Linked DNA regions of Homo sapiens. The protein of the gene in region 4 interacts with the protein of the main gene of each other region in a pairwise test. Each region holds a gene or a part of one and is shown on either strand. Other genes may lie near its edges. The genes, in order: NOA1, APOC4, COIL and NFU1.

The links.
Region 1: the proteins of NFU1 (region 4) and NOA1 interact in a two-hybrid assay, tested with the Homo sapiens proteins (one large-scale study listed by IntAct).
Region 2: the proteins of NFU1 (region 4) and APOC4 interact in binary tests that used the Homo sapiens proteins (3 or more experiments, as listed by UniProt).
Region 3: the proteins of NFU1 (region 4) and COIL interact in binary tests that used the Homo sapiens proteins (3 or more experiments, as listed by UniProt).

Annotation. Positions count from the first base shown.
Region 1 is NC_000004.12:56,967,201-56,972,130, reverse strand, and holds part of NOA1 (nitric oxide-associated protein 1), read left to right. Parts: intron 1-3,615; coding exon 3,616-3,747; intron 3,748-4,930. UniProt on the Homo sapiens protein: Involved in regulation of mitochondrial protein translation and respiration. Plays a role in mitochondria-mediated cell death. May act as a scaffolding protein or stabilizer of respiratory chain supercomplexes. Binds GTP.
Region 2 is NC_000019.10:44,940,201-44,945,697, forward strand, and holds APOC4 (apolipoprotein C-IV precursor), read left to right. Parts: upstream 1-2,036; 5' UTR 2,037-2,077; coding exon 2,078-2,153; intron 2,154-4,548; coding exon 4,549-4,690; intron 4,691-4,939; coding exon 4,940-5,105; 3' UTR 5,106-5,296; downstream 5,297-5,497. UniProt on the Homo sapiens protein: May participate in lipoprotein metabolism.
Region 3 is NC_000017.11:56,943,131-56,948,060, reverse strand, and holds part of COIL (coilin), read left to right. Parts: intron 1-1,549; coding exon 1,550-1,619; intron 1,620-4,930. UniProt on the Homo sapiens protein: Component of nuclear coiled bodies, also known as Cajal bodies or CBs, which are involved in the modification and assembly of nucleoplasmic snRNPs.
Region 4 is NC_000002.12:69,394,950-69,400,189, forward strand, and holds the end of NFU1 (NFU1 iron-sulfur cluster scaffold homolog, mitochondrial), read right to left. Parts: intron 1,342-5,240; coding exon 1,297-1,341; 3' UTR 1,177-1,296; downstream 1-1,176. UniProt on the Homo sapiens protein: Iron-sulfur cluster scaffold protein which can assemble [4Fe-4S] clusters and deliver them to target proteins.

The DNA.
Region 1 (4,930 bases), on a different chromosome or scaffold from region 4:
GCAGATCACAAGGTCAGGAGATCGAGACCATCTGGGCTAACACGGTGAAACCCTGTCTGTACTAAAAATACAAAAAATTAGCCAGGAGGTAGTGGGCACCTGTAGTCCCAGCTACTCGGGAGGCTGAGGCAGGAGAATGGTGTGAACCCGGGAGGCGGAGCTTGCAGTGAGCTGAGATCGTGCCACTGCACTCCAGTCTGGGTGACAGAGCAAGACTCTGTCTCAAAAAAAAAAAAAAAAGAATAGCATTAACTCCACCTGTCTTGTCCCTATGCCTCTCTTTTATCCAATTGCTCATGGACAACTTTGGGCCTCATAGGTAACTTTGACTTTGTCTTGTTAAATTCAGCCTATATCTTACTCTGTTAAATATTCATTCAATCTCATTACTTTTTATATTTGCAGTTTGGATCTTCATTCAGATCATTGATTGACTCAAATGTGCATCCAGGATACAGCCTCACAACAGATTCATTAATCATTTCCTTCGAATCTGGTTACTGACCAGTTTCCGATTTTCTAATTATCTCTGTATCTCCCTACAAAACCACATTGGTTTCTTAGGTACTTTTCTTGGCCTCATCAGGAACACTTATAGTTACATTCTCAGAATTGTATTCTATTTGGTGTCCCCTGTCATTGAATCATACACACCTTTTAAATTTTATTGCTCTCCTGGAATAATTGCTCATGCCATCTTTTCTTCCTTAGCAGTCCAAAAGTTCAGAGCTGCTTTCTAATAATATTCTGTCACTTTAGCTTAATGAACTAATTCTTCCCCCACCATACTTTTTTTTTTTTTTTTTTTTTTTTTTGAGATGGAGTCTGACTCTCTTGCCCAGGCTGGAGTGCAGTGGCGCAATGATCTTGGCTCACTGCAACCTCTGCCGCCTGGGTTCAAGCGATTGTCCTGCCTCAGCCTCTCGAGTAGCTGGTATTAGAGGCATGTACCACCACACCCAGCTACTTTTTGTATTTTTAATAGAGACAGGGTTTCGCCATGTTGGCCAGGCTGGTCTCAAACCCCTCACCTCAGGTAATCCACCCACTTCAGCCTCCCAAAGTGCTAGGATTGTGGATGGGAGCCACTACGCCCAGACTAATTCTTCCCTTTCAGATGCTATTAGATCAGGCATAGCAGTTACTTCAGTCATATATCCTCTATTAAATAGTTGTGTCAGAAAGGCAAGAATTTGCAAAATACTCTAGACAGCAGAATGAGAACCCCAAATTTTTAGATATAAACGTCTGTCAGCACTGGTAGTTTGCTTCTCTGTTAGTTTACAGATAAACTTATTTGATGTCTTAAACCAGGGTTTCCCAGACTGAACCAAGGATCTCTGTTGTGAAATGAAAGTATTAAGACTCAGGCTGTGCACAGTGCCTCACACCTGTAGTCCCAGCACTTTGGGAGGCCGAGGTGGGAGGATTGCTTGAGCCCAGGAGTTTGAGACCAGCCTGGGCAACATGCCAAAACTGTATCTCTACTAAAAATACAAAAAATTAGCTGGGCATGGTGGTACATGCCTGTAATCCCAGCTATTGAGGAGGCTGAGGCACAAGAATCACTTGATACACTTATTGGGAGGCAGAGGTTGCAGTGAGCCGAGATCATGCCACTGCAGCCCAGCCTGGGCAACAGAGTGAAACCCTGTCTCAACAAAAAAGAGAGACAAGGTTTCCCCTGTTGCCCAGGCTGGAATGCAGTGGCGTGATCAAGTAACTTCAAAGTCCTGGGCTCAACCAATTCTCCCACTTCAGCCTCCCAAGTAGCTAGGGCCACAGGTACATACCACCATGCCCAACTAATTGTTTAGTTTTTGTAGAGACAGGACCTCGCTATGTTGCCCAGTCTGGTCTAGGCTGGAGTGCAGTGGTGGAATCTTGGCCCACTGTAACTTCTGCCTCCCTGGCTCAAGCAATCCTCCACCTCAGCCTCCAGGGTAGCTGGGAACTACAGACACACGCCACCCCAGCTAATTTTTGTATTTTTCATAGAGGTGAGGTTTTGCCGTGTTGCCCAGACTGGTCTCAAACTCCTGAGCTCAGCTGGGCACAATGGTGCATACCTGTAATCCCAGCACTTTGGAAGACCAAGGTAAGTGGATCACTTGAGGTCAGGAGTTCGAGACCAGCCTGGCCAACATGACAAAACCCCGTCTCTACTAAAAATACCAAAAAAATTAGCCAAGCATGGTGGCGCACGTCTGTAATCTCAGCTACTTGGGAGACTGAGACAGGAGAATTGCTTGAACCCGGGAGGCAGAAGTTGCAGTGAGCCAAGATCACACCATTGCACTCCAGCCTGGGTGACAGAGCAAGACTCCGTCTCAAAAAAAGAAAAAAACTCCTGAGCTCAAGTGATCTGCCTGCCGCTGCCTCTGAAAGTCCTGGGATTACAGGCATGAGCCACCATGGCTGACCTGCAAATGGCTTTTAATGTGCCTTTTCAAACACAAATAATGAAGAAAACTATCTGCAGCCCCCTTATTATTTTTTTGTGAGCTGCTATGTATCATTTCTATTTTTTATTTTCTTGTTATTCTCTTTTTTTCCTTTGAGACGGAGTCTTGCTCTATGGCCCAGGCTGGAGGGCAGTGGTGCAATCTCGGCTCACCACAACCTCCGCCTCCCGGATTCAAGTGATTCTCCTGCCTCAGCCTCCCGAGTAGCTGGGATTACAGGTGCACGCCACCACGCCCGGCTAATTTTGTATTTTTAATAGAGATGGGCTTTCTCCATGTTGTTCAGGCTGGTCTCAAACTCCTGACCTCAGGTGATCTGCCCGCCTTAGCCTCCCAAAGTGCTGGGATTACAGGCGTGAGCCACCGCGCCCAGCCTCTTGTTAAGAAAGAAGTTTACAAGTTTTGTGTCCAATTTGTACCTTCTTTATTCTTTTTTAACCAGATTTTGATTCCTTAAATCTTTGCAGAATCTTGTACTTCTGTCTTTCCTTTTCTATTTTTCTCTAGTCTCTCTAGGAACTTGTCATCCTTAGAAGGGATTTATTATAAATCATAGGGATAAATTATAAATCCTCTGTGTTATAAGCATAGGGGATTTATAACTTTTTCTCATTCTCTGCTGAATATTTGGGAGAAATAAGGAAATTGAAGACCAGAATTTAGAAAGAGGTTCTTCAGCCACTTTACTTGCTCCTAGAATGGGGTGACCATTTTGCATTTAATGCATGCATACTTACCACTAGGACATAAGGTCACGTATACCATTACTTTAAGCGGAAATTGCTACTGCCCACAAGCCTTGATAAGGAGAGCATATATTTTCTATCTTGGTATTGAATCAACATGTTTTCAGGTTCACATTAATTTTGACATTTAGGGAATGCTGCTGACATAGGAAAGTCTCATACACCTATAAAGTTATTTTGCCATTACTGTAGATTAAGTTGTAAAACAAGGGTAGAGCCATCAGATTGAAATTAATTTAGACAGGAAGAATCTATATAAATTTGATGCATAGCAAACTCTGACATAATTTGGTTTATTTTGAAGTCTGGCATATTTTTCATCACTTTTTATTTTACGGGTAAATCATAATATATCATATTTTCAATAAAAGTATTTTCTTAAAAATCTGCCATTTGCTTCACAGATTTTAAATCTTCTAACAGAAAAAGAAGTAAATATTGTTTTGCCAACACAGTCCATTGTTCCAAGAACTTTTGTGCTTAAACCAGGAATGGTTCTGTTTTTGGGTGCTATAGGCCGCATAGATTTCCTGCAGGTAAGAAAAGTCTGTACTATTAAAAAATGATTTTAAAATATTGGGATTCACTTTAAGGAAGCAGATGTATGAACACGACTGACAAAATGTTGATAACTAAGCCATGATTGTATTGGGTTTAATTTGTTTTTATGTTTAAAAATTTCTGTAATAAAAACTTGGGGATGGCTGGGCACAGTGGCTCACACCTGTAATTCCAGCACTGTGGGAGGCTGAGGCAGGCTGATCACTTGAGGCCAGGAGATCAAGACCCGCCTGGTCAACGTGGTGAAACCCCATCTCTACTAAAAATACAAAAATTAGCTGGGCGTGGTGGCACACACTTGTAATCCCAGCTACTAGAGAGGCTGAGGCAGGAAGATCACTTAAACCTGGGAGGCGGAGGCTGCAGTGAGCTGAAATTGCACCACTGCACTCCAGCCTGGGTGATGGGGCGAGACTCCATATCAAAAAAAAAAAAAAAACTTGGGGAAAAGAAATGCCCTACTCCCTCATCCCCCCAAAAAAGTGCTAGGTCTTGAAAACTTACGTTTTCAATTGAGTACCCTACACAGCTTGGCATTTAAGACAAGATACTATCCCTATTCTATGGGATAGAGTCAAACCTATGGGATAAAGTCAAACCTTTAGGTACAGGGTTATAGGCGTTAAATTAATTCCACACTTTGTATACCATGATATGTGTGTTTTTATGCATACACGTTTTTGTTTGGTATTCGTTTATATAGCATCTAGGGATTTTGGAGTGTCTATAGAATTGCTCTCCATTTTGCTAAAGTGAAGAGAAAAAGGAAAATGAAACATGGATATGGATATGTCCAACAACACAATACAACTGTGTGCCATTACTATAGCACATTTCTTGGGTTTTGTGTTTGCTCATACTTTGTTAGAAATTTTGCCTTACACACTTAGAACCCTTATATATTTCGTTTTGGGAGGTTGTTGGTTTTTTGCTTTTGGGGTTGGTTTTTTGTTTTTTTGTTTTTTTGTTTTTTTTTTTTGAAACAGCATCTCTCTCTGTTGCCCAGACTGGAGTGCAGTGGTACAGTCACGGCTCACTGTGGCCTCAACCTCCTGGGCTCCAATGATCATCCCACCCCAGCCCCGCAAGTAGTCGGGACTACAGGCACACATCACCACACCCAGCTAATTTTTGTATTTTTTATAGAGACAGGGTTTT
Region 2 (5,497 bases), on a different chromosome or scaffold from region 4:
TTCGTCTGGCAAGCGTAGACAAAAGAATCCAGTCCAGGCCAGGCGCAGTGGCTCAAGCCTGTAATCCCAGCACTTTGGGAGGCCGAGGCGGGCGGATCACGAGGTCAGGAGATCGAGACCATCCTGGCTAACACGGTGAAACCCCGTCTCTACTAAAAATACAAAAAATTAGCTGGGCGTGGTGGCGGGTGCCTGTAGTCCCAGCTACTCGGGAGGCTGAGGCAGGAGAATGGCGTGAACCTGGGAGGCGGAGCTTGCAGTGAGCCGAGATCGCGCCACAGCACTCCAGCCTGGGCGACAGAGCCAGACTCTGTCTCAAAAAAAAAAAAAAGAATCCAGTCCATAGTCCCCTGAGCCATGTGCCCTGGGGTGCAGCTGGGTCCTTCAGGAGAAAAATGCTCTATTTCTGGCACTGGGACCGAGCCTGATGTGGGTTTTTTGTTGGTTTTTGTTGTTGTTATTGTTTTTGAGACAAGGTCTCGCTCCACCACACCCGGCTAATTTTTGTATTTTTAGTAGAGACGGGGTTTCACTACGTTGGCCAGGCTGGTCTTGAACTCCTGACCTCAAGTGAGCCGCCTGCCTCGGCCTCCCAAAGTGCTGGGATTACAGGTGGGAGCCACCGCCCTGGCCCTGGGCCTGATGTTGATGACCTCCTACTATGTGCACCTGCAGCTCTCCTGCATAGGCCTCAGCCGTCCTGCATGAGGACACTGGGAGGCAGGTGCTCCCTATCAACCCCGTGTTACAGTTGAACAAACTGAGCCCCAGAAAAGAAAACGTATTTGCCCAGGTCACACGGTGAAGAAGTGAGGGATTCGAAGCCCAGGTCCATCTGAAGCCAGAGTCACCCAGAGGAGAAAGAGTTGGAATTGAGAACTCAAGGAATGCTTGGAAGTGATCGGGCTCGAGCCCACCTAGGAAGAAACAGAGGCTGGAGACATGAGACTGTGTTGCTATTTCCTCTCATCAACCCTTGGGCCCTATTGAGGCCCTACCACAAGCCTGGCCCTGCAGCCCAGTGACTAGGAGAAATTAGACACAAGATAATAATAACAGCAATGATCTTTTTTTTTTTTCTGAGACGGAGTCTTGCTCTTTCGCCCAGGCTGGACTGCAGTGGCGCGATCTCGGCTCAATGCAAGCTCCACCTCCCAGGTTCACGCCATTCTCCTGCCTCAGCCTCCCGAGTAGCTAGGACTACAGGCGCCTGCCACCACGCCTGGCTAATTTTTCATATTTTTAGTAGAGATGGGGTTTCACCGTGTTAGCCAAGATGGTCTCAATCTCCTGACCTCGTGATCCGCCTGCCTCGGCCTCCCAAAGTGTTGGGGTTACAGGCATGAGCCACCGCGCCTGGCCAACAGCAATGATCTTTGAGCACCTATATTGCCAGTCTCCACGGTAAGAGCTTTCTTCATTTTTTGTTTTGTTTTGTTTCAAGACAGAGTCTTGCTCTGTCACCCAGGCTGGAGTGCAGTGGTGTGATCGCGGCTCACTGCAGCCTTCACTTCCCGGGTTCAAGCCATTCTCCTGCCTCAGCCTCCCAAGTAGCTGGGATTACAGGCACGCATCACTACTTCTGGCTAATTTTTGTATTTTTAGTAGGGACAGGGTTTTTCACCATGTTGGCCAGGTTGGTCTCAAACTCCTGGCCTCATATGATCTGCCCACCTCGGCCTCCCAAAGTGCTGGGATTACAGGCGTGAGCCACTGCGCCTTTCTTTGTATTTGTTCAAGTAATATACTGAAATATGTACTGTGCCTCCCACTTTATGGAGGAGGAAACTGAGGCCAGCAAATGAGGCTGTCATGGGAGGTGGAGACAGGATTTGAACCTGCCTCAGTGCAGGAGGCTCAAGAGCCTCTGTCTTCTCTCAGGGCACTGTGTGGGAGGGTGAGAAGGAGGGAGGCCCACAGAGGCATGACCTCTGATTGCCACTGTCACCTGGGCCCTGCTCTCTGAAGTCTCTGCCAAGCGGGGAGGTGGCCGGGGGAGGGCCCTGCTCTGTGCAGCCTCCCCTCCCCCGGCCCGCAGAGTTGAGCACAGAGGGACAGAGGCACGGAACCCCCAGAAATGTCCCTCCTCAGAAACAGGCTCCAGGCCCTGCCTGCCCTGTGCCTCTGCGTGCTGGTCCTGGCCTGCATTGGGGGTGAGAAGAAGTGGGTGGAGGGATGTGGGGCCCACACCTGGTGGGTGTGAGTGTGGCTGTGTGTCCTGTGGCTCTGTAGCCACGTGAGACATGAGTACGGAGTGTGTGCGTTTCATGGCGTGCGTATGCATGTGCGTGTCGGGGAGTGTGTGTGTCGGTGGCTGAGAGTGAAGTGTGAATGTCACATTGGTACAAACTGGGATCATCTGTGTGTGTGCACGTGCGTGCGTGGAAGTGGGAGTATGCAGTCGTGGTAAAAAAGTGCATGTCTGTGTGCATATGTGTATTTGTGTGCACCTGTCTCTCTGTGGGGTATGTGTGTGCAAAATATTTGAGTGTGTGGACATGTGTGAGGGGGTGAGTGTGTGCTGGTGTGTACGTCTGTGTTTTGCATATGCATTTTTTTTTTTTTTTTTGAGACGGAGTCTCACTCTGTCACCCAGGCTGGAGTGCAGTGGTAGCAGTGGTGCGATCTTGGCTCACTGCATCATCCGCCTACCCGTTTCAAGGGATTCTCCTGCCTCAGTCTTCAGAGTATTTGGGACTACAGACACACGCCACCATGCCTGGCTAATTTTTTTTTTTTGAGACGGAGTCTCGCTCTGTTACCCAGGCTGGAGTGCAGTGGCGTGATCTTGGCTCACTGCAACGTCCGCCTCCCGGGTTCACGCCATTCTCCTGCCTCAGCCTCCCGAGTAGCTGGGACTACAGGAGCCCACCACCACGCCTGGCTAATTTTTTGTATTTTTACTAGAGACGGGGTTTCGCCGTGTTAGCCAGGATGGTCTCCATATCCTGACCTCGTGATCCGCCTGCCTCGGCCTTCCAAAGTGCTAGGATTATAGGCGTGAGCCACTGCGCCTGGCCAATGCCTGGCTAATTTTTTTATATTTTTGGTAGAGACAGGGTTTTGCCATGTTGCCCAGGCTGGTCTTGAAATCCTGACCTCAGGTGATCCGCCCGCCTTGGCCTCCCAAAGTGCTGGGATTACAGGCATGAGCCACCACGCCCGGCCATGTACTTTATGTTAAAATGGGATCATATTCTAGATCAGCATTATCCAGTAGAAATTTAAATTTTTAATACAGGGCCAGGCACGGTGGCTCATGCCTGTAATCCCAGCACTTTCGGAGGCCGAGGCGGGTGGATCGCAAGGTCAGGAGATTTGAGATCATCCTGGCTAACAGATGGGTAAAAACCCATCTCTACTAAAAATACAAAAAATTAGCCATGCATGGTGGCATGCGCCTGTAGTCCCAGCTACTCGGGAGGCTGAGGCCGGAGAATCACTTGAACCCGGGAGGCAGAGGTTGCAGTGAGCCGAGATCGCGCCACTGCATTCCAACCTGGGTGACAGAGCGAGACTCCGTCTGAAAAAAAAAAAAAATTTAACACGTATGTAGACAATGTGCAAGGCACCATTCCATGTGCATCGTATGTAGTAACTCTTAATTCTCACGATAACCCTGAGGTAGATATTATTACCCCGTTCTACAAAAGGAGAAACAGTCCTGGGGAGACAGGATAAGTCACCGGCCAAGGCACACAGCTAGCTACATGTGGCCCCCGCGTGACGGCTGGTCTCTGTAGGCGAGGCTTTGTCCAGATGCGTGGGTAGAAGGTCTGGCCCGGAAAGAGGAACTGACAGCAAGGCTAAGCCAATGTCTGCCCCTGGGGGCAGAAAGTCACCTCCTGCTCTCCCTCCACTGTCCACAGAGGTAGCTCAGACAGGGTGGGGGTCACAGGAGAACGAAGGGAGAAGGGGGTAGTTCCTGGGCAGCAAAATCAGGTGGTGAAGGGAGGCATCAGAGGATGGCAATTAGAGAGGCCATTAGAGGGGAACCACAGGCAGACAGGGTGACAGGAGGGACTACTGACACAAGGTGAAGAGATGGCCCAGCCGGACGGGGTGGCTCACATCTGTAATCCCAGCATTTTGGGAGCCCGAGGTGGGTGGATCACTTGAGGTCAGGAGTTCGAGGCCCCAACATGGCAAAACCCCATCTCTTCTAAAAATACAAAAATTAGCCGGGCATGATGGCAGATGCCTGTAATCCCTGCTACTCGGGAGGCTGAGGCAGGAAAATTGCCTGAATCCAGGAGGTGGAGGTTGCAATGAGACGAGATCATGACACTGCACTCCACCCTGGGCAACAGAGCAAGAGACTGACTCTGTCTCATAAAAAAAAAGAAAAAAGAAAAAAAAAAAGAGATGGCTGATGGTTAAAGAGGGGTTAGCGGTCAGGGGACACATAAGGGTAAAGGCAGGAGGCAAGAGGACTGGCAGGGGGCTGCCCCTGGGCCACCGGGAGCGACACAGGATGAGCATGGAGGGAAAGGGAGAAGGGGATTCTAGGGTCCCAGCCTACCCAAGTTGCCCTCTGGTTCCACCTAGCATGCCAGCCAGAGGCCCAGGAAGGAACCCTGAGCCCCCCACCAAAGCTAAAGATGAGTCGCTGGAGCCTGGTGAGGGGCAGGATGAAGGAGCTGCTGGAGACAGTGGTGAACAGGACCAGAGACGGGTGGCAATGGTTCTGGTGAGGGTGTGCTGGGCTGGGTGGTGGGAGGGGACTCCTGGGTCTGAGGGAGGAGGGGCTGGGGCCTGGACCCCTGAGTCTCAGGGAGGAGGAAAGGGTGGGAGTGGGGCTGTGACCCCTAGGTCTGGGAGGAGTGGAGGGTTAGAGCTGAGAGCAGGAACTCCTAGGTCACAGAGAGGAGCGGATAAATGGGGCAGAGAACACCTGGGGAGAGCTGGGGCCTCCACTGTGATGTCCTCTCTCCTGTAGGAGCCCGAGCACCTTCCGGGGCTTCATGCAGACCTACTATGACGACCACCTGAGGGACCTGGGTCCGCTCACCAAGGCCTGGTTCCTCGAATCCAAAGACAGCCTCTTGAAGAAGACCCACAGCCTGTGCCCCAGGCTTGTCTGTGGGGACAAGGACCAGGGTTAAAATGTTCATAAAAGCCAGGTGTGGTTGTGGCGGGTGCCTGTAGTCCCAGCTACTCAGGAGGCTGAGGTAGGATGATGGCTTGAGCCCAGGAGTTCGAGACCAGCCTGGGCAACACAGCGAGATCTCTTGGGGGTAAAACAAAAAGAAAAAAAAAAGTTCATACTTCTCCAATAAATAAAGTCTCACCTGTGTCCCTGTCTGGATCCTTCCCCAGTGTGGCCAGAAAAAAACCCACCCCACTGCCTCCCAGGAATCAATGAGTAGAAGAGGTGACACCTGATGGGGAAGGAAGAGTAGGGAGGTCGGGAAGGGTATCAAGGAATAACACCCTATTGTGGGCTTGCGGAGAATGGGGGACTTCAAGGCGTGTCAGTTTCAGGAGGGTGAGGGCA
Region 3 (4,930 bases), on a different chromosome or scaffold from region 4:
TTTTGTTTTTTATCTTCTTAGGCACTTACTATCTCCTATGGATGAGGTGATCATGTAATTTATCACCTGAATCAGGATACTTGTGAGTCAAAGGGATGCTATTAATAGTTATGCTGGAAAGATGTACAGACCTGTCTTGAACAAACCAGGGTGTTTTGTCACCCTACCATAGAAAACATTTAATTGTGTGATATATGAGGAAATGGAAATGAATATTGTATTGATACATCCCACAACCTCTATAAATTGTAATTCTAGATGATACTGATTTTTAAAAATTGCTTATTAATGGCCAGGCACAGTGGCTCATGCCTGTAATCCCAGCACTTTGGGAGGCCAAGGTAGGTGAATCACTTGAGGTCAGGAGTTCGAGACCAGCCTGGCCAACATGGCAAAACCCCATCTCTACTAAAAATATAAAAATGAGCCTGGCATGGTGGCGTGCACCTGTAGCCCCAGCTACTCAGGAGACTGAGGCACAAGAATCACTTGAACGCAGTAGGTGGGGGTTGCAGTGAGCTGAGATCATGCCACTGCACTCCAGCCTGGGTGACAAAACGAGACTCTTAAAAAAAATTGCATATTAAATTGGTATTAGTTGTCATAGTTATTAATGTTGGAAGGTGTTTTGCCTACTTTAGTTGGCAAAATTTTTTGAAGATTTTTGAAATTGCTTTCAAAAACATTTTAAGAATGAAAATTGGTCCTACTTTTTTGCTTTGACCTCAAACGCAGTTATCCAGCTTGATCATCTGCTTTATTCATTAACCTTGTCTCCAAAAATTAAATTGGTTCAATTCTGTACTAAAAAATGTAGTCTCCCAAGCCCCTGATTCCCTGTTGAGTCTGGTTTTAAAAAAAACTGTTGACTGTGCTCAGAAATTCCAGGTAGAGGCAGGAGGAACTGGTTGCTTGGCCTCTCAGTATATACCCCCGGAGGCTACCATGTGTCTCCCCATCGCCCACGTGCATGGGCAGTGCATCCTCTTGATGCATTAGAAAATCAGCTCCCACAGCTGGAGACCTGGGAGAAGGAGAATTGGGATCTTAACAGTGATAAAGTGCCTTCTGGTTTCTCCTGGGGGGTTGTGATCACTGTTTTAGAAGGGTTCTAAAAGCATCAGGAACCGAGGCTGCACCATTAGGATATATCTAGTCTCTCCTGATGAATGCTGTGATGGTCAGTGCTCACTTGAATATATCAGCCTGGTGTGATTTTTTTCTCCTTTTCCCTTATTCAGTCACTTTTGGTTCCCTGGTGTAATCTTTACTTTCATCGAGTTATTTAAGATAGTGTCTGCCATTTATGATTTAAATGTTTTATTTTGCCTCTAAAGATATTTCTGTATATTCACATAAAGTGTTTATCAGTCCACCTGTTTTTATTTTCTCTATATGTGGATTTATTTCTAAATTTTTCAACTGAGATAAAATTCACATAACATAAAATTCAACATTTTAACCATTTTAAAGTCTACAATTCAGTGGTTTTTAGTATATTCACAGTGTTTTACATGTTGATTTTGACTTGGACTTTTATTTTTGAAAGGAAGGAAGAATATTAAGCCACAATCCAGAGACCCAGCAAGTAGATATAGAAATTCTTTCATCCTTACCTGGTGAGTCTTTTAGAAAATAATTTGAAAATGTAGGCTCTATCTACAGTGGTTTATAAATAGCTTTTATACACAGGAGATGTTCTCTTCCTTGGCCTCCATATAACTGGCGCTCCCCACTTCTTTCAGCACACTTTAGCCCTGGGGGCTCATAAGAGATGTTGGATATATTCCAAAGCTGTTGGGCTAGTTCTTATTACTGTAATTATATAATTTCATAAAAGATTATATGAACTGATGAAAATCGATTATAAAAAGAATTATTCCTAGGAAGCCTAAGTTGAATGCTGACTCAGGAAATGCTATGAAATTATGGATGAGTGGGTCAGCTATAAAAGATTGGGAGGAATTTTGTAAAAACTGAGGAAGATTCTGCACTTAGATTGCCTTGCAAATTTTTGCAATCTTGCCTTATTTAAGAAAAACCCAGGCTGGGCACGGTGGCTCACACCTGTAATCCCTGCACTTTGGGAGGCCAAGGTTGGTGGATCACTTGAGGTCAGGAGTTTGAGACCATCCTGGCCAACATGGTGAAACCCTGTCTCTACTAAAAATACAAAAATTAGCCGGGCGTCATGGCACACGCCTGTAATCCCACCTACTGGAAAGGTTGAGGCAGGAGAATCGCTTGAACCCGGGAGGTGGAGGTTGCAGTGAGCCGAGATAGTGCAACTGCCTTCCAGACTGAGTGACAGAGCAAGACTTAGTCTCAAAAAATATTTTAAAAACCCCCAAACTGTAAATTGTGGAAATTGCAGACAATACAATGGTATGGTTTATTAAAAAAAGAGCTCTATTCAGTGAACTCATAAGACCTACTCAGCTCTATTTCAAAAGATTGTCAAATGAATATACTTTTGTATATTAAGTCAAAACAAAATGTCTGAAGTGTGTGTATACATACACTTTCACATATCATTTTAAATGGTTGCTGGATTTATCTCTGATGAACCCCACCTGGTACTGGAACTGAATGCGTGGAATAAGAGGGCTTTTATAATATGTAGCTTAACTTGGGGTGTACTGTAGGGGTCCCTGGCCAGAGGGCAGGGGAGATTCCTTTTCCTTTAGAAGATCCTAAAGCAATTAATTGTTTTCCTTTTTTTTTTGACAGAGTCTCACTCTATCGCCCAGGCTGGAGTGTGGTGGCACAATCTTGGCTCACTGCAGCCTCCGCCTCCCAGGTTCAAGTGATTCTCATGCCTCAGCTTGCAGAGTAGTTGGGACTACAGGCACACACCACCATGTCCAGCTAATTTTTGTATTTTTAGTAGAGATGGATTTTGACATGTTGGCCAGGTTGGTCTTGAATTCTTGGCCTCAAGCAATCCACCTGCCTTGGCCTCCCAAAGTGCTGAGACTACAGGTGTGAGCCACTGTGCCCAGCCTGTTTTCTGTTTGTTTGTTTGTTTGTTTGTTTGTTTATTTTTGAGACGGAGTGTTGCTGTCGCCCAGGCTGGAGTGCAGTGGCGCTATCTTGGCTCACTGCAAGCTCTGCCTCCCAGGTTCGCACCATCCTCCTGCCTCAGCCTCCCGAGTAGCTGGAACTACAGGCGCTGGCCGCCATGCCCGGCTAATTTTTTGTATTTTTAGTAGAGACGGGGTTTTACCATGTTAGCCAGGATGGTCTCGATCTCCTGACCTCGTGATCCACCCACCTTGGCCTCCCAAAGTGTTGAGGTTACAGGCATGAACCACCGCACCTGGCCTTCTGTTTATTTTTAGATAAGGGATTGAATAAAAGATTCAGCTAACAGAAATCAGTCGAAAGAGTTTTTGAACAAAGTTCGTTTATGATATTAAGTAAATGTTTATATATAACTTACACTGGGTTCCTACCTTTCTTTTTTTTTTGAGATGGAGTCTCACTCTGTTGTCCAGGCTGGAGTGCAGTGGGCGATCTCGGCTCAGTGCAAGCTCCGCCTCCCGGGTTCACGCCATTCTCCTGCCTCAGCCTCCCGAGCAGCTGGGACTACAGGCACCCGCCACCACACCTGGCTAATTTTTTGTATTTTTAGTAGAGATGGGGTTTCACTGTGTTAGCCAGGACGGTCTCGATCTCCTGACCTCGTGATCCTCCCACCTCAGCCTCCCAAAGTGCTGGGATTACAGGCATGAGCCACCGTGCCTGGCCAGGTTTCCAACCTTTCTTCTGATGAGATTTCATTTATAGAAATCCCCTTTCTTAGGAACGGTGGACAGAAAAGTTTGTCCACTGTCAAATTCTGTGCATACAGCCTGATCAGTGCTTGTCAGGTGATTAATAGTGATGACATCCACTTAGAACTTTTCTTCTTTAGGGCATCAAGAAATGGCTTCGGGGGCGAAGGTGGGAGGATCACTTGAGCCCAGGAGTTCAAGACCAGCCTGGGCAGCATAGTGAGACTCTGTCGTAAAAAAAAAAAACAAAACATAGCTGAGTGTGGTGGTACATGCTTGTAGTCCTCGCTACTTGAGAGGCTGAGGTGGGAGGATCACTTGAGCCCAGGAGGTCGAGGCTGCAGTGAGTCATGATTGCGTCACTGCACTCCAGGCTGAGTGAGCAAGACCCTGTCTCAAAAGCAAAAAAGAAAGAAAGAAATGGATTTATCTGTTCTCTAATAGCAATGTCACTTGTCCTTGATGTGGTGGTTCTGATATACATATATTTCAGTTACCCTGGTTTAGTTAAGTAATACTAGTCCCCCAGCAACATTGCATATGTTAACTGTAAGTGCATGAAGTACTGCTAGCTCTTTAGTCCACATATCACTATATAACATAAATAACAGATACGCGTCATGATCCATTACCAGTCAAGTCAGTACTTTCAGAGTCCGTCAGTGACTGGTCACTGTGCATCTGTTATTCAGTTCACATACAGAGCAGAGCATGCAGTTGTGGTGCCTCCTTGTCTCTCACTTATAAACCTGCATGACATTTTACAACACGTATAATCGAAGTAGGGAATTGGCCCACAAAGATAAAGGCACAGCAAAGAAACAAAAGTGGTAATGCTGAAAGTGCCATCCAAACTGAGTTTAAGGAGAGTCTGTAGAAGAAATAGCTCACTGTAGGAATGTTGACACTGCCAGTGAGGTGAACTTATTGACATAAATGAGGAAAGTGGTTGTGGCAAAAAGGATGAAAATGTCCCCAAAGTGACACCAGCAAAAACAAAGATTTTACAAAGTAAAAAACAAATTCTTTGAGCTATTTCACGACATTAGAAGTTCAAAGGATAAAATGTAGAAAGCAGTTTCAAACTTAGAAAAGAGTATAACAGTTGCACAAAGCATAGAGAAGATGCTTGCTCTGTATTGTAAGTTACAGGG
Region 4 (5,240 bases):
ATTTGGTTCAGTGAACCAAAGGATAAAAGTAAAAACTTCAATTCCCAGCACTCACAACTGCTAGAGTTCTTCCTGTTTCCATCACTATCTTAATCTCCTTAATTTGAGGGACTAGAATTCCAGAGATGCAATGCATCACAACTATTTTTCCCATCTTTCCTTTCCCTGTATTTTCTGTTAACTGCAGTCTCTGAATTACTGTAGAAAAATGAGAGAGGAGGCTAAATCACTCTTTTGGCTACCTGAAAAAGCAGTACCCCTAGAGTACAAAAATAATGATGCACACTTCTGGCATGGTACAGATTTTGGATCTCTGAGTCAGAAGCCAGTGGGAGGACCAAAGCAGCTTCTTCTCTTTTCTTCAGCAATTCTGATTGATAAGGTAAAGGCTGGGCATGCTGAGGCAGTTTTTCTAATTTGGCCATCTCCATCTTAACCAATAGAAACTGTGTCCAGATTCTGGGAGTTAGTTTTCAAGTTTTTCACCTTTTTTTTTTTTTTTTTTTTTTTTTTTTTTGAGATGGAGTCTCGCTCCGTCCCCCAGGCTGGAGTGCAGTGGCGTGATCTCAGCTCACTGCCACCTCCGCCTCCCGGGTTCAAGCAGTTCTCCTGCCTCAGCCTCCTAAGTAGCTGGGATTACAGGCGCGTGCCTCCGCGCCCGGCTAATTTTTGTATTTTTAGTGGAGACGGGGTTTCACCATGTTGTTCAGGCTGGTCTCAAACTCCTGACCTCGTGATCTGCCCACCTCGGCCTCCCAAAGTGCTGGGATTATAGGCGTTAGCCACCATACCCGGACATTTTTGATTTCTTTTTTTTGGTCTTAAGCAGTTCTTTGCTACTTAATTGGGGGCTAGTAGCCAGATACCATTTTTAAAACAGACTTGTTTAGCTGTTTCTTAAGCTAAAAACTTCAGTAAAAATAGTTTTAGATATTTCACAAAAAGCTATTTTAGAATATTCTAAAAAGCATTCTGTTTCTTCCTGTATGGAAAAAAGTAAATAAATTAGATGGGGGGAAATGTATTTTAAACTCCTTCACACATATGCAAAGAAAGAGCCATGGGAAATGAGGGACAAAAATAAAAATATCCTTGGATAAAATCCACGTGTACAGAAGATGATTCAAGAGGTTATAAATAACTCATATGAGGTAAAGCAAACATGCAATATTTATATATCATTCTCTGAAGAGCATATTTTATTAATCTTCAAGTTCCTCAGCATATTAATAATAAAAACTTGATATATATTATCAACAAGTCTGACTGTTATGCCCAAAGAAAATCCAGATTATTTTAAGGTGAGTTTGCTTCTTTTTCATCTGATTCATCATCCATAACCTAAAACCAAAAAACAAAGACAATTTAAGAATTAAGAAAATGATTAGATTTTGCTGTTTTCCTGATTTTAATATTACTTCTTTACCTGATACACTCTATAATGAGGCATGACAAGCCAGTAAGAATAAATCTATCAACAGCCCCAAAGAACAAGGTTTGAATCATAACCCGGTATCCTAAAAACATAAAAGCAACCCCATCTCTACTGAAAATACAAAAAATTAGCCAGGCGGGCGCCTGTAGTCCCAGCTACTCGGGAGGCTGAGGCAGGAGGATGGCGTGAACCTGGGAAGCAGAGCTTGCAGTGAGCCGAGATCGCGCCACTGCACTCCAGCGTGGGCAACACAGCGAGACTCTGTCTCAAAAAAAAAATAAAATAAAATAAAAGCAAATTAAATATTTGGAAATTAATTAAAGCATTGATCACTTCTCCTTGTCTCAAAGAGGCTACCCATAGCAGAGTCTCAGCTGGGCAGAAAAGACTATAAATAATTAACTGGGGCCAGGCGCGGTGGCTCACGCCTGTAATCCCAGCACTTTGGGAGGCTGAGGCAGGCAGATCATGAGGGCAGAAGATCAAGACCATCCTGGCTAACACAGTGAAACCCCGTCTCTACTAAAAATACAAAAAATTAGCCGGTCGTGGTGGTGGGCGCCTGTAGTCCCAGGTACCCGGGAGACTAAGGCAGGAGAATGGCATGAACTGGGGAGGTGGAGGTTGCAGTGAGCCTAGTGCCTGGTGATAGAGCACTCCAGCTTGGTGATAGAGCAAGACTCCGTCTCAAAAAAAAAAAAACAATTTAACTGGTATTCTCTAGCCATAAGACTAATGTAAATGACTTTTTCTTTTTTTCAAAACCATCTTATTTACTTAAATATATTCTGTGAAGCTATACCAAATTGTTATTTTAAAAACATTTATTTTTATTAAAATGAATCCCCAAGGAAAGTGAAAAACAAAACAAAACAAAAAAACCCCACCATATTAGGAACTAATTATTTTAGTCTTACTGAGATAAAAGATCATTTTAAGCCTCAGGAAAATGTTACAACAGCTATTATCTTTCCATGAGTTAATGTATTACTAAGATAACAGACTAACTCCATTGGAGAAGGAAAAAGTTACATAAACCTAAGAATGTTTTTTTCTCCTCACCACACCTACTACAATTAGATGCCAATTCAAGTTTCTAATCTGAAGGCCAATTCATCACCCTACCCTGGACAATTGAATAAAAATGTTCCTCAGTCAATCCACCAAAGTATCAACTAACATAATTTTTTAAGGCATATAGATGATAATGGAACAAAGTAAGGTTTTTTTTTTTAAAAAAAATCTAGGCCAGGCACAGTGGCTCATGCCTGTAATCCCAGCACTTTGGGAGGCTGAGGCAGGTGGATCACCTGAGGTCAAGAGTTCAAGACCAGCCCGGTCAACATGGCGAAACCCCCATCTCTACTAAAAATATAAAAATTAGCCAGGCGTGGTGGCGCGCGCCTGTAATCCCAGCTACCTGGGAAGCTAAGGCAGGAGAATCATTTGAACTCGGGAGGTGGAGGCTGCAGTGAGCCAAGATCAAGCCATTGTACTCCAGCCTGGGCAACAAGAGTGAAACTACGTCTCAAAAAAAAAAAAAAAAAAAATCCAGATTCTGGCTCTGATCTGAGACAATCAATAGAAAAAGAATTCTTTCATAGGCTGTCTTTTTGGTTGAGTAAAAATTGGTATTTATTCCCAAGAAATTAATATTTTACATCCAATTTCAACAATACCCAATCCAAAAAATTTTGTCAACCAACTCATATTTTAGGCAGAATTATTCCTTAATTTGGAATAATATTCCCAAATACTTAATACAAAGCATGTATAGGACATTTGTAAGGCACACAGCTAGTTGTTGCAGAGGAACACAAAGACTTGGATATGATTTCAAGTCTCTTAGGGAGCTTCCACGTAAACATAAAGCTAAAACAGATACAGAAAGCTACATAAACATAAAGCAAAAACAGAAGCTTTGGACCTGTCAAAGAAGAACTTAATTCCAAGTGGGGGATGGATAAAAACTTCAAAGAGAAGATGTCATGTACTGGACCAAAACGATGGTGTGGAGGCTAAAGCAACTCCATCTTGGATGCTAATCTGCCACATTGACTACCCTCAGTTCTAGGAATGCCTCTAAGTTTTCTACTTAATTCTGCCTTTAGGTCAAAATAATCTTGATGTTATCCTAAACAAACACATACTTAGCATAAATCTTGCCCTTAAGCAAATTATAGGCTATTAGGCAAATAGCATTCTTGCCTTTTCCAGAGGGGCTGACTTCAATTGTCCTACACATATCTTCTGAAGCATGTATACCCATTCCTCCTGGTATATAAGCCCTGAGTCTAGCGGGTAACAATGCAGGAATCCATCATCTTGCAGCTGCCCGATAAATGGCTTCTGTTCCTCAGTCCCTATTAAATGTTTCTTTCTGACCAACTGGATTTGCCAGCCTCTGTCTTCAGCCTCTCAGCTCCCTAAGACTTTGGGGATAGGTCTATATAGACCTGCTCACTGTGGAACAGATGAATTTTAATACTACCCAAGGATGAGTGATTCCCAATGGAGCCCTTAAGGGCACAGAATTACCTGAGGTGGTCAGGCACGGTGGCTCATGCCTGTAATCCTAGCACTCTGGGAGGCCGAGGCGGGCAAATTGCCTGAGCTCAGGAGTTTGAAATCAGCCTGGGCAACATGATGAAACCCCGTCTCTACTAAAATACAAAATACAAAAAATGGTGGCATGTGCCTGTAATCCCAGCTACTCATGAGGCTGAGGGATGGGAACTGCTTCAACCTGGGAGGTGGAGGTTGCAGTGAGCCGAGATAGCGTGTCACTGCACTCCAGCCTGGGCAACAGAACAAGATTCTGTCTCCAAAAAAAAAAAAAAAAAGAATGAATTACCTGAAATTCTGTGGGTTGGAAATTTCTAATTTCCACACATCCCTTCACTCCTTGATAATCTCTCTCCATAAGGCCATGCTTTTTGGTTGAGAATCACTGCAGTGAGACTCATTATTACTGATGACAAGGTGCTGTGTTATACTCCTTAGGTATGTTGGCAAAAAAAAAAATGTTGATATTGTGCTACACGTAAAGCTCTAGAATTCTACTCAGTATAACAACAAACTATGATTTCTTAATGGGCTTCTTGCTTGCATATTTAAGAATACATAGATTAGGCCAGTTGTGTTAATCCTTAATCCCAGCATTTTGGGAGGATCACCTGAGGCCAGGAATTCAAGACCAACTTGGGCAACATAGCAAGACCCCGTCTCTACAAAAAAAAAAAAAAAAAAATTGGTAAATATGATGTAGTAGAGTTCTTCCACTAAAGATTTCTAAATCTCATCTATAAAACACTGTGTTACATTTTAAACCTTTTTCATAATTTTTGTGCAATCAGGGCAGCAATATGCCCTCTGAGTCTCTGTAGCCTTATGTGCAAAATGGGAATGACTTAATGCACTGTGTCATTAGAAGATGAAATGAGCAAAAATGCCTGGCACATAGTAGGTTCTCATAACACTAAAGTTACTTCATTTTTTTTTTTTTTTGACGGAGTTTCGCTTTTGTTGCCCAGGCTGGAGTGCAATGGCGCGATCTCGGCTCACCGCAACCTCCGCCTCCCAGGTTCAAGCAATTCTCCTGCCTCAGCCTCCCAAGTAGCTGGGATTACAGGCGTCTGCCACCATGCCCAGCTAATTTTGTATTTTTAGTAGAGACGGGGTTTTCTCCATGTTGGTCAGGCTGGTCTGGAACTCCCAACCTCAGGTGATCCACCCACCTCAGCCTCCCAAAGTGCTGGGATTATAGGTTTGAGCCACTGCGCCCAGCCCAAAGTTACTTCTAAAA